Regions from separate parts of the Homo sapiens genome. Here region 2 is linked to region 1. The links come from fine-mapping of genetic effects on gene expression. Tissue or cell type: sigmoid colon. Region 1 holds a variant in brackets; the other region holds the start of a gene. All regions are shown on one strand. Distances are between the middles of the regions.

The links. PIP is the estimated chance that this variant, and not a neighbour inherited with it, causes the effect.
Region 2: MYOF starts here. The variant in region 1 is fine-mapped to the expression of MYOF in sigmoid colon (GTEx, PIP above 0.99).

Annotation. Positions count from the first base shown.
Region 1 is chr10:93,438,361-93,446,467 of GRCh38, reverse strand. The region is part of intron 3 of MYOF (myoferlin); the gene reads left to right. Among named protein-coding and RNA genes, the nearest start is that of MYOF, 40 kb to the left of the region's middle. The variant G/AG (reference allele first, on the strand shown) is at 3,937.
Region 2 is chr10:93,477,633-93,485,739 of GRCh38, reverse strand. MYOF (myoferlin) reads left to right here and starts at 3,406. Exons shown (of 54, transcript NM_013451.4): 1 at 3,406-3,633. The coding sequence starts at 3,546.

The sequences.
Region 1 (8,107 bases):
TGTGGCTCAGTCCTTCAAGGTCCTGCTTCAAGGCACTTTCTGAGAAATTAATCGGGTGATGCTATAATAGCTGCTAATAGTTAATTTCCCGGTAACACTGACTTTTGGACTGAAGGCCATCAGTGACTTACTTGAAGGAGTGAACAAGATGAGAACTTCAGACCCTATGGCCAGGTCATTGGAGGAGGTGTTTTCACTAAAAATTAGAACATTATCTCTCATCCTGCAGATTCCACTGCATAGTTTACTGTCTTGCAGTGGAAGGCCGACCCTGCGTCAGCTCTGTAATGAACAAGGCATGATTTCCTGCCCCTCCACCGCCTCTGCTCTTTTGTAAGCAGTGTGCCTCCCCATCCTCAGCTGGGAATCATGATCATTAGCTTAGTTTCCACCAACTAACCAATACACACACCTTGGTCAGATTACCTGTACATTTCAGAAACAAACTTTTTTTTTTTAACCATCTGGGAATAAACTATATGTGTTTTCAAAATATTTGTGTATTTTGGGCCCAGATTTTCTTTTTGGCTTTTCTACTAAAGTTCTGGCCTTTGAGGATCTGCTTACTGCTCAGTGTGGGACCGCTTCCCTCACCTGAAGTGCAGGGTTGGGGCGGAAGGGTTTTCTACAGCTTAAGGAATGTCCTGCCTGTTGACTTTCCTGTTGCCATGGCGATGGCCTGTGCAAACATGAGCCCTCACTTTGCATCTGCTGCTCCCCGGCCTATTAGCAAACAGTTCCCAGCTGCCTCGGTCAGCTGGGCTCCATGCCCACACCCGCATGGGCTAGACCCAGGCAGTCCCAGGCTCACAGCGCCTGTGGGCAGTGACACCTCCCCACCCCTCAGGCACTGGGAGCGGGTTGCCTTGTTCAGTGTGGACTCTCCTCTTCCTCACTTTACAGTCATCCAACCAGCCATTCAGAGGGAATGAGGGTGAGAAAGGAGACAGAGGAGCCTCTTGGTCACATAAGGAACATGAAATGTTATTTTTTAGAGGAAATGTCAGAGTGGAAAGATTTTCCCAGAGGCTGAAGAATGAAAGTTCCCTTTGCAGGCAGCCAATGGTTATAGCTTTGTGAGGACTTAGCATGTGCCAAGGGCTGTGCCCAGCCCTTTGCATTCATTACCCCAATTGATCCTCACACACACCTCATATGATGGGTCCTATTTTTCCTCAGAGAGGTTTAGTAACCTGCTCAAGGTCACACAGCAGGTGTGTGTTAGAGTCAGCTCATCTATATCCAGGCCTGTACACTTGACTTTTATGTTATACTGAAAGCCTCTGACTACCTATAGTAAACAAAATGTAGGTAGAATGATCAATTATCTCTGCTGAAATAGAAGTGATTTTTCTTCCTAATTTTGACAAAAAAAAATTTAATTCTCAATATCAGTGTATTGCTACCTTTTATAAGCTCCACCCTAGGTAAAAATTTTAAGCATTTTTATACTGTTGAGTAGGAAGTCACTTATGCCTATATTCTGCAATGGACCAGATATATGAAGAGACTATATCTCATCTCATTTGCTCTTCACAGTGACCTTGAGAAGTAGAGAGTAGACTTGAGCCTCAGAGGGGTGGAGGCTGGGACCCTGATCTGTTGGCATCCTGGCCCTACCCTTGAGTTCCTAAAAGTGCCATCTTCAAGAACCTGTACATGTAGAAATAAAAGATATTGACAAGTTTTCAGATTTGTGTGTCTGTGTGTATGCACACGTGGACACACATGCCCAGGAGAAAAAAGAGGTACTGCGTAGAGTTTTTGCATTTGCTGTTCCCTTTGCGTGGAATGCTCCTTCCCTCAAACTGCAATAGATGTAAAATCTTGTCATTGGGCCTCACCATGTCTGATCATCCAGCCTAGAGCAGCCCCTCCCTGTCACTCTTTATCTTATTACTCTGTTTTATTCTTCCAAAGCCCTTCTTATTAGGGAGCTCATGTGAGTGTAAGAATGGGAAAAGGAGTCTGTGTGAGCAAATACATGCTAGAATTGTGTTTTAGACAAGTACTCAGGGTATGTGCTGGTCCACACACCTGCTATATGTAGCTCAGCATTCACCACCATCTGAAATGTTCTTTTCTATTTACTTATTCATTTGTTCTCTCTCTACTGGATAGTAAACTCCATGTCACTCTTGTTCAATGCCGTAAGACCAGCACTTAGCACAGTGCCTGGCATATAGTAGGCTCTAAATAAACGTTTGTTGGATGAATGAGTGAACAAGTGAGTTTATGATGCTCCTACGTGGATGACATTTACCATTTAAGAAGCACCTTGCAGCTGTCCTGTCAGCTCACTGGTAATGGGCCACCAGTGTGGAATCTGTCCACCTCGGCTCTCTGAAACAGCACCCTAGTTCCAACTTGGGTTTAAGCTGCAAAGGGGTCAGGATACAAAGGTCAGAACACAAGAGAAACAAACCTCTCTCACAAAGCTCATGCCATTTTGTAGAGAGATGTGGAACTCAAGGCTGAGCTCACAGGAAGGCAGGAGAGCATGGTATTTGAAAGTTGGGATTCTGGAGCCAGGCAGAAGCCGATTAGAGACCCAGCTCTACTGATTACTAGTGGGTGACCTGGGCAAGTTACTTACCCTCTCCAGGCCTCAGAATTCTCATCCTTAAATTGACTGTAGTTTGGAATTGACTGTAGTTCCGTTATGCTAAGGGATTAGATTTACCCTCCCACCTGACACAACTAAAACAAAATACATGCAACAGTAGTTTTCAGATGTTGGACTTTGCTGGCACAGAACAGTGATCTCTAAGAGATGGGAGATAAATGAGGTGAGCCCTGAGAGTTCCCAGCTTAATGCCTAGAGAGACTCATTTCCATGCTGCAATGCAAGAAAAGGGATCCTTGTTGTCTCCCAGAGTTGGAGAGGTGCAGGTGGGAGTCTAGAGATGCCAAGGTTAGTCTAAAGATGCCAAGGTTACTAGTGGACCAAGAGGAGAGAAACACAGACACACACACACACACACACACACACACAGAGAGAGAGAGAGAGAGAGAGAAGAAAGAGGAGAGAAGAGAGAGGAGAGACAGAGAGAGCACTTCAGAGACTTGCAGAGAATTCCCCTTGAATCTTCAGCTGAGAACTGAGTGAGGAAACTGCTTGAGGCAGGACTAGAAAGAGTTTATGTTCCCGCCAACCGGGGGAAACACCTTGTAATTCATAGGGAAGGATTTTGCCTCCCTAATGTAGGTAGAAAACAATCAATAGAAACTGACCCAGAAATGGCACACAATCAGTAGACATGGACAGTAAAACAAGTATTATAATTCTTTAAAAAAAATTTTTTGTGAGACAGAGTCTCACTCTGTTGCCCATGCTGGAGTGCAGTGGCACGATCTCAGCTTACTGCAACCTCCGCCTCCGGGTTCAAGTGATTCTCCTACCTCAGCCTCTGGAGTAGCTGGAATTACAGGCACACGCCACCATGCCCAGCTAATTTATGTATTTTTTTTACCAGAGACGGGGTTTCACCATTTTGGCCAGGCTGGTCTCGAACTCCTGGCCTCATGTGACCCGCCCCCCTCGGCCTCCCAAAGTACTGGGATTACAGGCATAAGCCACCGTGCCCCGCTGAGTGTTGGAATTCTATTCTATAGATTCAAGAAGGTGGAGAATTGCTTGAGCATGCTAGTAGGGACATGGAAGATAATTTAAAAAAATTAACTTGGACTGCTAGAGATGACAATTACAATGTCTGAAATAAAGTGACCATAATTATCTGTCTCAGAATTTGCATGTCTAGTATTCTTTCTGCCCTCCAAATACATGTACTTGTGCATGCAAAACCACCATTATATATACTTCCACACCAATGCAGAACAAAGTTAGAAACAGTTTCTGAATATAAATCTCAAGCAAGGCATCTGTTTTGCCGTATTGTAGGAAGGAGATAACAAAAAGGCCTGACAATATACCTA[G/AG]AAGGAAATGTATTCCAGTTCTTGTGTAAGAGGTGTGGGCATGTGGCCAGCTGTACAATCATGAGATTAGACAGAACTTTGGTTTTGCTTCTTGTTGGTTGGGTGACTCTTGGCAAATTTCTTAATCTTTATAATGGGGACTGTGATACTTCCTCAATAAATAGTAGATATAGGGCAAATTTGATATAATTAAGAAAAAATTACTTCAATTTCCTGATGAACAACAAAATAGCTAATTCTTTTCTTCTAGGTTTACTGTGTGTCAGGGACGATGTTAAAACTGTTTCAGTTACAATCGCATTTAATCCTTATATCAACTATGAGTCCGTCAGACAGTCTGATCTTCAACTCACAGATGAGAAAAATGTGGCTGAAAGAGGTTCATTAAATTGTAAAAGGTCACTCAGCTCTTTAAGTGGAAGCATGTGGATTTTACATAGGTATGTTAAAATCCTCTTACACAGAGCCCAGACTTTCCAAGGTTTATTCTGTGTGTGTGTGTGTGTGTGTGTGTGTGTGTGTGTGTGTGTGTGTTCAGGTTGAGGGCCAGGGTGCTAAAACTTGAAAGTGAGAGGTTGTTCGGGGGAATATAGAATTAAAGGAAAAGGATATAGAATTAAATAAAAAAAGGAAAAGACCTAGCTTACGTTGTGAAATGTACTAACTCTCGGCCGGGCACGGTGACTCACGCCTGTAATTCTAGCACTTTGGGAGGCCGAGGCAGGTGGATCACGAGGTCAGGAGTTCGAGACCAGCCTGGCCAACATGGGCAAACCCCCGTCTCTACTAAAAATACAAATATTAGCTGCGTGTGGTGGCAAGCGCCTGTAATCCCAGCTACTCGGGAGGCTGAGGTAGGAGAATCGCTTGAATGCAGAAGGCAGAGGTTGCAGTGAGCCGAGACCGTGCCATTGCACTCCGGCCTGGGTGACAGAGTGAGACTCTGTCTCAAAAAAAAAAAAAAAAAAAAGATACAAAAATTAGCCAGGCATGGTGGCGGGCACCTGTAATCCCAGCTACTCCAGAGACTGAGGCAGGAGAATCGCTTGAATTCAAGAGGTGGAGCTTGCAATGAGCTGAGATTGCACCACTGCACTCCAGCCTGGGCAACGGCGTGAGACTCCGTCTCCAAAAAAAAAAAGAAATGTACTAACTCCCTAGCTTGTTTTAAATTAGAAAAAACAAAAGACTGCGTTTGGAATAAAATTAATTTGGTAGGGCAAAGTGTGGTATTGCTTATAAGACGTTTTTCATTCCCTAGTATATGAAATACCTTGTCTTTAAGCTTTTATTACTTTTATTTCTCCTAGTTATAAAGCTCATTTCTGACCTTGCCCCATGTAAATGTGACAGTGGGAGAAGGTGGTCTTTCTTCTCCTGGGGTTGGTTGGTGAGGAAGGATAGGATAGCCCATGGATTGAAACAGGTTCTTCTCACTGGAGTAGCTTCTCAGGCTGTACAAAAATCTAAACTAGAAGCAGATGTTACTGTGGGGCAGAACTCTCAGTTCTGATTTCTTTTTAGTTCTGTATTAGAGCAATGACACTGAAATGATCTGAGCTGGTTTGGGCTGGCTGTCTCTATACGGGGAGAGGCTGAACTGCACTTTTTGGAAGGCAGATTAAGTAGCTGCTGCAATCCTGTTGGTATCTGTTAAGATCTTGTGATTAAATAAGATTGGGCCACAGCCCTGGAGAAAGATACCCAGAGAGGCTGAAAGAGAAAGGCATCTCATAAAGGCAAGAGCTGTAATTATCTTCTGATGGCTCTTTGGCGGGTGATCTCTTAGGACAGGAAGATTTACAACCTGTAAATAATTTGCAAGGTCATTGGACTATCTTCAATGATGTATCAGCTAATTTATTCATGCCACAAATATTTACTAATGCCTACTATGTGTCAGACACAGCTCTAGACACTGGGGGTACTCCATACCTTTTATGGAGCTAACATCTGAGTAGAGGGAACAGATAAATACACATATGACATAACAGATGGTGATAAGTGATACGAAGAAAATAAAGGAAGGTAAAGGAGAGAAAACAGCAGGGTGAGGTCTGAGTGGGTGCTGGTTTAGATAGGGTTGTTGTATAAGGGTTTGTTTTGGGGGTTTTTTTTTTCGAGACGGAGTCTTGCTCTGTCGACAGGCTGGAGTGCAGTGGCACAATCCCGGCTCACTGCAACCTCTGCCTCCCGGGTTCAAGTGATTCTTCTGCCCCAGCCTCCCGAGTAGCTAGGACTACAGGCGCCCGCCACCACGCCCGACTAATTTTTTTATTTTTAGTAGAAATGGGGTTTCACCATATTGGCCAGGATGGTCTTGATCTCTTGACCTCGTGATCCACCTGCCTCGGCCTCACAAAGTGCTGGGATTACAGGCATGAGCCACTGCACCCAGCCTGGGGAATCTTTTATAATGGGTTATGAAGTTTACAGACTTCATTCAGATTCCACTAAATTGGATTTTATGAGAATTCAGCTGCAGCTGACATTTACCTCTGGTCTAACTCTGAAAAGAAAAATTGTTTCCCAAAAGGATTTGTGGTATATGTAGTATTAAGGGTGGGGAAGGGCTATTTAATGTAGGTAAGATAAAGAACTGGTTTTAAGAACTTTACATAGTGATTACATAGAAATGGATGTGGGTAGTTACAAAGGGTTCTTATCTATTCATTCATGCCCACCTGCCCAGCCCCCTGCTGATTCAGACCAGCTTTCACTGCCAAGTACTAGCCAGGAGCCCTGTCTTCATATGCTTTTTATACATCTCTTTTTCTAGCATAGTGTCTGAAATAATAATACAAGGTGACTGTTAAGCACTTGCCATATCATCCTTTTAATCCCTGCAACAATACCATTAAGTAGGAGCTGTCATTATCCCCATTTTATAGATGAGGAAACTGAAGCTCGGAGAAGTTAACCTGTACGCAGCCTGAGTCTGAATTAGTCAGGCCTGCCTGCCTCCACGTTCCTAGTCATCAGGCAAAGCTGTCCCTCCTTATCTTACAAGGTTCAAGTTCATGAAAGAGTGAATAAATGGATGGATGAAAAAACTACTACTTTGATTCTAACGGTTGAGGGAATTAACTGGAGACAGAGCATCGGAACTCCACTGAACCATCAGAGCAGGCAGGCAGGCAGGCAGGCACAGAATTGGTCAGGTGAAAATAACAAAATAGCAGGTGACCATTTCTTCAAGAAATAATATTCAGCATCTCCTCCATGCCAGAGGAGTTAGCCTGCTCCTCGCAGCCACAGACTCTGGCCTCAATGCCTCACTGACCCGGAGGGCTTTGGTGAGGAGACCTGGGCTTCCACTCAGCCCTTTGCAGGTGTTACCTGCAAAGGTAACAGTGATACCATAGTGGCCAGAGTTGCAGAGGTGGGAGGGGCTGGGAAAAAGAGCACAGTAGATGCTGGCCACGAAAATCGTGCAAATCCTGCCACAGCCTTCAGGCTATGTCAGTGATTCCAAAACCAGGGCGTGGAGTGAGCTAAAAGTAGAGGCGAGACTTGTGCCAGCCAGGTTTGGGAATCACGGTTGAGGATCAGTGTTTCTACCTTTTAAAAAGCCACACCCCCTTTCGATGAGCAGGAAAAGAGCCGCAAGGTTCTCTGGCAGTCCTGGCCTGGAGTCAGGAGCGGAAGTTCCTGGGGGGAGCGCAGGTCACTAGGCCTTCCTAGGAGGTTTTCATGGAGTTTGCCTGCTACAGTTTGTTCTATTAAATAATTGGACTTCGATGCGTGGTTCTCAAACGTGAGCCTGGATTCCCATGCTGAATGTTTTCAAAACCACTCAAGCCCCCCTCTCCCCAGATCCCGCGTTGCCTTCTGCCTTCCCTATCCCTAGCCCTCTACCTCCTCCACTTTACTCCCACAGCCATTGGGAGTCACTGTCTAGACCATTGTTTCTCGGACTTCCTGGGTATTAAGAATTACCGAAAGGAAAAAGTCGGACTCAGGGATCTGGGAATCTGCAGACGCCCTGGTGAGGGACGTCTGGGGAAGCACATTCTGAGAAATGTTTTGGGAGACGATGCGGAGGCCGAGTGAGGGTGGGCGGGCAAGTGCAAGTGGAGGGGTGAACCGAGGCGCAGCCCTTTGCGGGGATTTTACCTTAGCAATAGTTTCCTGTGATACGAGCTGCTGCCATGGGCGTGTTGAGAAAGAA
Region 2 (8,107 bases), 39 kb before region 1:
CTGGGACCACAGGTGCATGCCACCACACTCGATTAATTTAAAAAATTTTTTTTAGAGGCAGGGTCTCACTATGTTGCCCAGGCTGGTCTCAGACTCACCTCAGCCTCCCCAAAGTGTTGAGATTACAGGTATGAACCACTGTGTCTGGGCTGAAACATGTTTTATCTTGCTTATTTAGATTTATACTCCACCTGTAATTGATTATGTATTATGTAAGGTTGGAAGTCATTTGTCTTTTTCTCCCACATGAATAGGTAAAAGGCAAATTAAAACTCCAGTGAGATGCTATTATATGCTCACCAGAAGGGCAAATGTAAAAAATCTAACATTGGTTAAGTATGACAAAAATTTAGAACAACAGGAAGTCTCATACACTGCTGGCAAGAGTACCATTGTGGAATATAATTTGGAATTACCTTGTAAAGGTGAAGAAATGCATACATTCTCTGGCCCAGCAAGCAATTCCACCCATAGATTAGACTCTAAATAGACTCATGCACATTTGTGCCAGAACAGTCTTGGACTGTTCAGAACAGCACTGTTTGTAATAGCCCCATTCCCTGAACTGTCCAAATGTCTGGCAGTAGTAGAATGAATTAATCAAATCTGGAGGCCAGGCGCAGTGGCTCATGCCTGTAATCCCAGCACTTTGGGAGGCTGAGGCAGGCGGATCACGAGGTAAAGAGTTCGAGAACATCCTGGCCAACATGGTGACACCCCATCTCTACTAAAGATACAAAAATTAGCCGGGCGTGGTGGTGTGCACCTGTAATCCCAGCTACTCAGGAGGCTGAGGCAGGAGAATTGCTTGAACCCGGGAGGCAGAGGTTGCAGTGAAACGAGATCGCACCACTGCACTCCAGCCTGGGCTACAGAGCAAGACTCTGTCTCAAAATAAATAAATAAATAAAATGTCAGAAACTCATACAATGAAATGCCATATAGCAACAAGAGTGAAGGAAGTAGAGCTACATGAATGAATTTCACAATATAATACTGAGAAAAAAGAAGTCAAACACGAAAGAATCCATTCTGTATGAGTCCATTTCTATAAAGTCATAATACAGCAAAGAATTCACAAAGTATGAACACATGTATGTGTGTACCTATATATATGAATATATGTGTTGTATGTAAAGTTCATAACATACAAAAGAATTTATATCACCAAACAAAGGTCATGAGCAAGCAAACCTAAACTGTTTTGTTGTTGTTGTTTTCGGTAAAAACTACAAAGAAAAGCAAGGAAATCATTACCATAAAAATCAGGAGAGTGGGCCAGGCATGGTGGCTCATGCCTGTAATCCCAGCACTTTGGGAGGCCGAGGTGGATGGATCACCTGAGGTCAGGAGTTTGAGACCAGCCTGGCCAACACGGTGAAACCCTGTCTCTACTAAAAATACAAAATTAGCCGGGTGTGGTAGTGCACGCCTGTAATCCCAGCTACCTGGGAGGCTGAGGCAGGAGAATTGCTTGAACCCGGGAGGTGGAGGTGGCAGTGAGCCGATCACCCCACTTCAATCCAGCCTGGGCAACAAGAGTGAAACTCCATCTAAAAAAAGAAAAAAAAATCAGGAGAGTGGTTACCTCTGGGAGAAGGAGGTGGATATGATATATGGGGTATTCCAGGGGCTTCTGGAGGACTGGCAATGTTCTGTCTTGACCTGGATGCTTGTTAAACTGTCACGTTTATGTAGTATGCATTTTTCTGTAAATATATTTCACAGTAAAAATGGCAAATAGAAAGCAGCCAGATAAAATAAAAGTAATAATCTCTATATTCCACTAAAACTGCCAACATGTCCACTAAATACAATAATGAACACAGCACTGGGTAATTGGTTCTTTGCTTTAAGCCTTGGAGAAACTCGTGGAGACAGAAGAATTCTTGTAGGTTAAGTCATGCTTATTCAATGTACTTGAAATGTTTATTTACAGGTGGGTCTGCTTGATGTGTGTTCTAAAGCAAAAAGAAGCCCAATGTTTCTTCATCCCAAGTTTTAGCCTTTTCTTCTGAAATATAACGAGATCCTGATTTAAAGTCAGCCTGCACTAACAGAAACGCTGTGAGACCACAAATAAGCATGAACTTCTTACATGTGCAAATTACTGTGTGCTTTGTGCCAGCTCCTATGCTATGACCTTTATCTTATAACAGCCTTTATCCCCAGTTCATAGATGAGGAAACTGAGGAAGAGAGGGGTTAAGAAACTTGCTCGCCAGCACGGTGGCTCAAGCCAGTAAAGCTCAAGCCAGTAAAGCTCAAGCCACGGAGGCCGAGGCGGGCGGATCACAAGGTCAAGAGATCGAGACCATCCTTGCCAGCATGGTGAAACCCCGTCTCTACTAAAAATACAAAAAAAAAAAAAATTAGCTGCGTGTGGTGGCGCACGCCTGTAGTCCCAGCTACTCGGGAGACTGAGGCAGGAGAATCGCTTGAACCCGGGAGGCAGAGGTTGCAGTGAGCCAAGATCGCTACACTGCACTCCAGCCTGGTGACAGAGCGAGACTCCGTCAAAAAAAAAAAAGAAAAGAAAAGAAAAGAAAAGAAACTTGCTAAGATGACGTAGCTCAGGGTGGTGAGGCAGAGTCTCACACTCAGATCTGGCTGACTAACCCCAGGCCGCCTCTTGTGATCTCAGCCAAGCTGCACTGTCTTCATGCACCCTCTGGGACAGAAAGACACCATGGGCAGCTGTAGGTCCAGAAACAGTGGGGAGTCACTTCTCCATTTTCACTGAAGGCAATTGGCAGCATTTGAAGAGCCGGGAAAACTTAGGCGCCCAGCTCTCACCTCTGAAGGGGTTTTGAAGAAATTCTATGTTCAGTCCTTTATATATATATATATATATATATATATATATATATATATATATATATATATATATATATAATTATTTATACATATATGTAATTATTTATATATCCCATGCCTGGATCGCGTTTACTTGAAATAAACGCTGTCATTCGTTTGCCGTCCAGTAAGAGGCACCCTTTAGCTGCTTTAAAAAAGCTGAACATAGGGTTACTGAGTGGGTGTGTTCAATGGCGTGAGAAGTAACAGCGAAAAGTCAAAAGCAAATAATGACTAAAGTTTTAAAACTCCTTGAAACTCAGAAAAGAATGAAAGCAGTGACGGAAAAATCAATTAATTCAGTTTCACGAACCATTGCTAAAAGGCAGCAACATTTTAGTGGTTTCCTGACCTACCCGTATTTCTTAGCTCCAAATTCATGTTGGTTTCATTTGTCGCACGGAATTATTTTTAGTTTAGGGTTTGTCCTTTTCACTTCCACATTTCCCGAATTCATAAGTCTGTGCCTGCGGCACTGCGTAGACGCGGGGAGTTCGGTATCAGTTTACACGTTGCCTTCAGTAAAATCCGCCAGAGGTCCACCCATTTTGCCTTTTCCCCTTCCTTGCCCTGGGAGAAATCCTCCCTTCACTGGGAGAGAACTTCTCTCCCAGGGCGGTGCGACCCGGAGCTCCAGCGCCCTAGTCTCCACTTCGTTTGCTGAAACTTGCTTTCTACCAGCTAAGAACCATGCTGCGAGTGATTGTGGAATCTGCCAGCAATATCCCTAAAACGAAATTTGGCAAGCCGGATCCTATTGTTTCTGTCATTTTTAAGGGTAAGAAAAAGTTTTCTTCTTTTTCTGAAGTCCTGTTTTGGAATGTTAGTTTCTTGAGTCACCTTCTTGAAAAGTCTGCATTTAGACAGCTGATGAAGCCAAGTCTCTCCAGCAGCGTTTGTTACCTGCGCAGGACAGGGGAGAGGACCCGTTTCTGGGGAAGGCATTTAATTTTCTCCAGGGCTTGAGACTCATGGAATGACCTGATGTTTTAGCTCTAAGAGTGTGATTTCTGTAAGCTCTTGGCAGAAAACGTATTTGCGAATCACTAAATTTCAGGTATCAACAAACATCTGTATTGGTTCAAAGTAAGTTTCAGTAGTCTTAGATGCATTTTTTCTCTGCCTGTGAGAAATGGGTAAAGGAGGAAGAAGAGCAATTAAATTGTTGGAGACACCATTACTCCTTGAACCAGCCTGACGCTGCTTTGATTGTCACTGGGTTTCTGGGAGGTGGGATGGGTGAAGTTCATAGTTTTATTGAGTTTTCCTGCCCTTTTGTGCCTTTGTAATTGTTTTTATATCTAAACTGTTGGGGAGCTTTTTTTGTACATTCTGTAGCTTTTAAATTGCTCATTGAGGAAAGAACTCTGGACAGCTAGTTTGCAATTTGGGGATCTAGTTCTATCTTGCCTGCTGAATGACCTTGGGCAAGTTACTTCATTTCTCTGGGATCTCAATTTTCTTTTCTGCAAAACAGGCGAGAAGGGTTTAGACAAGATCATCTCTAAAAACCTCATGGTTGGCTGAGCACAGTGGCTCCTCAACCCTGAGCCAACTTTGGGAGGCCAAGGCAGGAGGATTGCTTGAGCCCAGGAGTTTGAGGCTACAGTGAGCCGTGATCACGCCACTGCACTCCAGCCTGGGTGTAAAAATAAATAAAAATAAAAGGCTCATGGTAATTTTAAAAGGCTATTTTTCTATGACACTTGATTGCCATTGCAGGGGAGGGGACAGGAATGCTTGGTGTCATGGTACAATTTGATGTAAGTGACTTAGTTTTGGCTAAAGTGGGGTTTCTAAATCTCAGTGTGGAGGCTTTATCTATTTTGTTTGTCATTGGTAAGACTGCCAACTCACTTCTTGGCAAGAGGGATGGGAAAGAGAGGGAAAGGCAGAGAGAGTGGGAGCATGGATAGACATGTGTTTCCTGACCATGCCTTGCTACATTTCTCGTTTCTTCCAGGAGCCTGACTGCTACTCCCTGTCAGTTCCTGAGGCATCTATACCTTTCGCCTTTCTGTTTCCCGTTTTTCCCCTTTATTTCTCTTCTTAAACCTCTCTCTCTGAGGATGAGCAAGAAAATGAAAGAAATGAAACTCAAAGCTGGCTGGCTGGGTGTGGTGACTTCTGCCTGTAATCCCAGAACTTTGGGAGGCTGAGGTGGGTGGATCACATGAGGGCAGGAGTTCGAGACCAGCCAGGCCAACATGGCAAAACCCCATCTCTACTAAAAATACAAAAATTAGCCGGGCATGGTGGCACATGCCTATAATCCCAGCTACTCGGGAGGCTGAGGCAGGAGGATTGCTTCAACCCAGGAGGAGGAGGTTGCAGTGAGCCGAGATCATGCTACTGCACTCCAACCTGGGCAACAGAGTGAGACTCCGTCTCAAAAAAAAAAAAAAAAAAAAAAAAAAGCTGGCAAATTGTTGGTTGGTTAAAAAAAAAATCTAAAGGGCAAAAATTGGATTTAAAAAAAATTTAAAAAAATTTTTTTGAATAAGACTGGGTCTTGCTATGTTGCCCAGGCTGGTTATAATTCCCTTGCTCAAACTTTCTTCCCATCTCAGCTTCCCAAAGTGTTGGGATTACAGGCGTAAACTACCACGCCCAGCTTAAAATTGGGCTCTTAAAGGACAATGAGGTTTGAAAATCTGGCTAGTGAATATCATGGACTCACGTTATGTCAGAGTTTATTTACATGTGTTAGGTTTTATTAATTTTTTGTTTTCTTGAAGCAGTTACATAATAGAGACATAATATGAAGATTTTACATCCTTCATCATTGACATATAAAGACATTAAAATATATTTGGATCAGTCCGATCATGTAATTATTTAAGTATTATAGATTATAGAGGAATTGGAGTTAATACTATATTGAAATCTGACTTGTTATTTGTCTGGAGTTTGTATGCATTGATGAAACATTTTAAATGATGAAAAATATATCTAAGTCAATGAATGCAAACAATCAATTGAAAGTGGAAAACTTCAGTTAAGTTGGCAAATATAGTCTATACAAACAATTACACATTTAACTTTAGTCTCTTTTCTGGCCTCCTTTTTTCATACAAATCGAGTGGTAAAGTCATTCATTCATTTAGCTAACAAGCAACCTGACAGAGGAAAGGGCACTCAACTCAGAGTAGGAACATCTGCATTCCAGCTGACATTAACTCAATATCTGATTTAACCACCTGGGTCTCCAATTTCTCAGCTGTGGCATGATGGGAACTGGTCTTTAGATGCCTTCCGTCTTTTAGATTCTAATTTTCTAGTTCCAGGTATTGAGTTAGCTGCTCTCAGCAAGATGTGAAATGCATTGCCTTAGGTGCTGGAGGGGATATAGCAACAAACACAGCACTCTTCTTGCTTTCAGTCTATGTCGGTGGTTTAAAATCCTGGTGATGGCAAACCCTTTACAGGTGTGTTCCCAATTTTGAGCACTGCGTAAAATTAAGTAACATTAAGTTCTGACTGAACTGAGGATACTTATAGCAAAATACTGTCCATCAGAGGGAACATGGAACAAAGGCAGACACACTTCATAGTGTGGAGTGGGGCAGGGTATGGTAAACTGGAAAAAGCCCTACCATGCCTGTAGTCCCAGCTACTCAGGAGGCTGAGGCAGGAGAATCACTTGAGCCTGGGAGGCGGAGGTTCCAGTGAGCAGAGATCGCACCACTGCACTCCAGCCTGGGAGATAGAACGAGACTCCATCTCAAAAAAAAAAAAAGGAAAAAGCCATACCAGAAGATCAAGGCGGCATCAAAGAAAGTCCCTGTGTTAACAGAAATATGTAAACATTTTGCCTCTTGGGTAAATAAACAAAGTCAGGGCAGTAAGCAGCTCTTCTCAAACTATAAGACGGTGAAGAATGGCCAGGGGAAGTGATTGTTAATGGTGAAGCTCGCATAGACACTGTGAGGCCCTATTAGGCTATAGCTACACTGTACTTGGGATTGTGCTGTACTGACAACCAACTGGTTTACAGTTGACCTCAGTTTTTCGTGTTCAAACCCTTTCTTTCTTTCTTTCTTTTTTTTTTTTTTTTTTGAGACTGTTTCACCCTGCCATCCAGGAGGGAAGAGTGCAGTCAGTGGTGTGATCATGGTCTCGAACTCCTGGGCTCAAGCGATCCTCCCACCTCAGCCTCCTGAGTAGCTGAACTATAGGCACACACCACCATGCCCAGCTAATTTTTAATTTTTTTTGTAGAGACAGGGCCTCACTCTGTTTCTCAAGCTGGCCTTGAACTCTTGGGCTCAAGCAATCCTCCTGGCTTGGCCTCCCAAAGTATTGGGATTACAGGTATGAGCGCCCAGTTGTGTTCAACCGTGAGTGACCCTTCTGAGGCTGTCAAATTACTCAGGGCCTGGTAGGAACTAGGAGGATCTGGGGGTTGCTGTAGTCCTGGTGCATGGTTGTTGGTGATGTTCAGCAGCGCAGGTGTAGATTATGAAAGCCACAACGCTTATGTAATTTTTCATATCCTTCGGGTACACCAGGTTCCATGAGCCAGATCCGAATTGAGGCTGGAGTGAGTGCCTGTGAGCCAGGGGTGGCCATTCTGCCCTAAGTTCCATGCGGACAGCCAGGCTGTGAAGCTGAATCTAGCTGAGATTAGACTACACAGACCTCTGAGACCAATTTCAACTCTGAGACTTGATGATTCTTCCAAACAGTCCTCCAAACAGAACAGGTTGTTAAAAAACTTTTTAATTTTAAATAATATAATATTTTTAATTTCTAAAATTAAAAATGCATGTAGACATAAGATAAACAACCCAGAAGGGATTATGCAACTAAAAAGTGAAAATTCTCCCCACACCTCTTCTATTCTTTCTCTCTCCCACTGTTAGTCCTTCAGGGTCACCACTCTGAACAATTTGATTTGAATCCTTCTTGATCTTTTGCTCTAGACATATAAGTTGTCCCAACTACTGCCTGTTAGCAACAGTACTGCAGTGGGTGTCCCTGTGGTGCGTGTCTTTGTGAATATGCATATTTCATTTTTATTTATTTATTTATTTTTTAGATGGAGTCTCGCTCTGTCACCCAGGCTGGAGTGCAATGGTATGATCTCGGCTCACTGCAACCTCCACCTCCTGGGTTCAAGCGATTCTCCTGCCTCAGCCTCCTAAGTAGCTGGGATTACAGGCGCCCGCCATCACGCCCGGCTAATTTTTGTATTTTTAGTAGAGACAGGGTTTCACCATGTTGGTCAGGCTGGTCTTGAACTCCTGGCC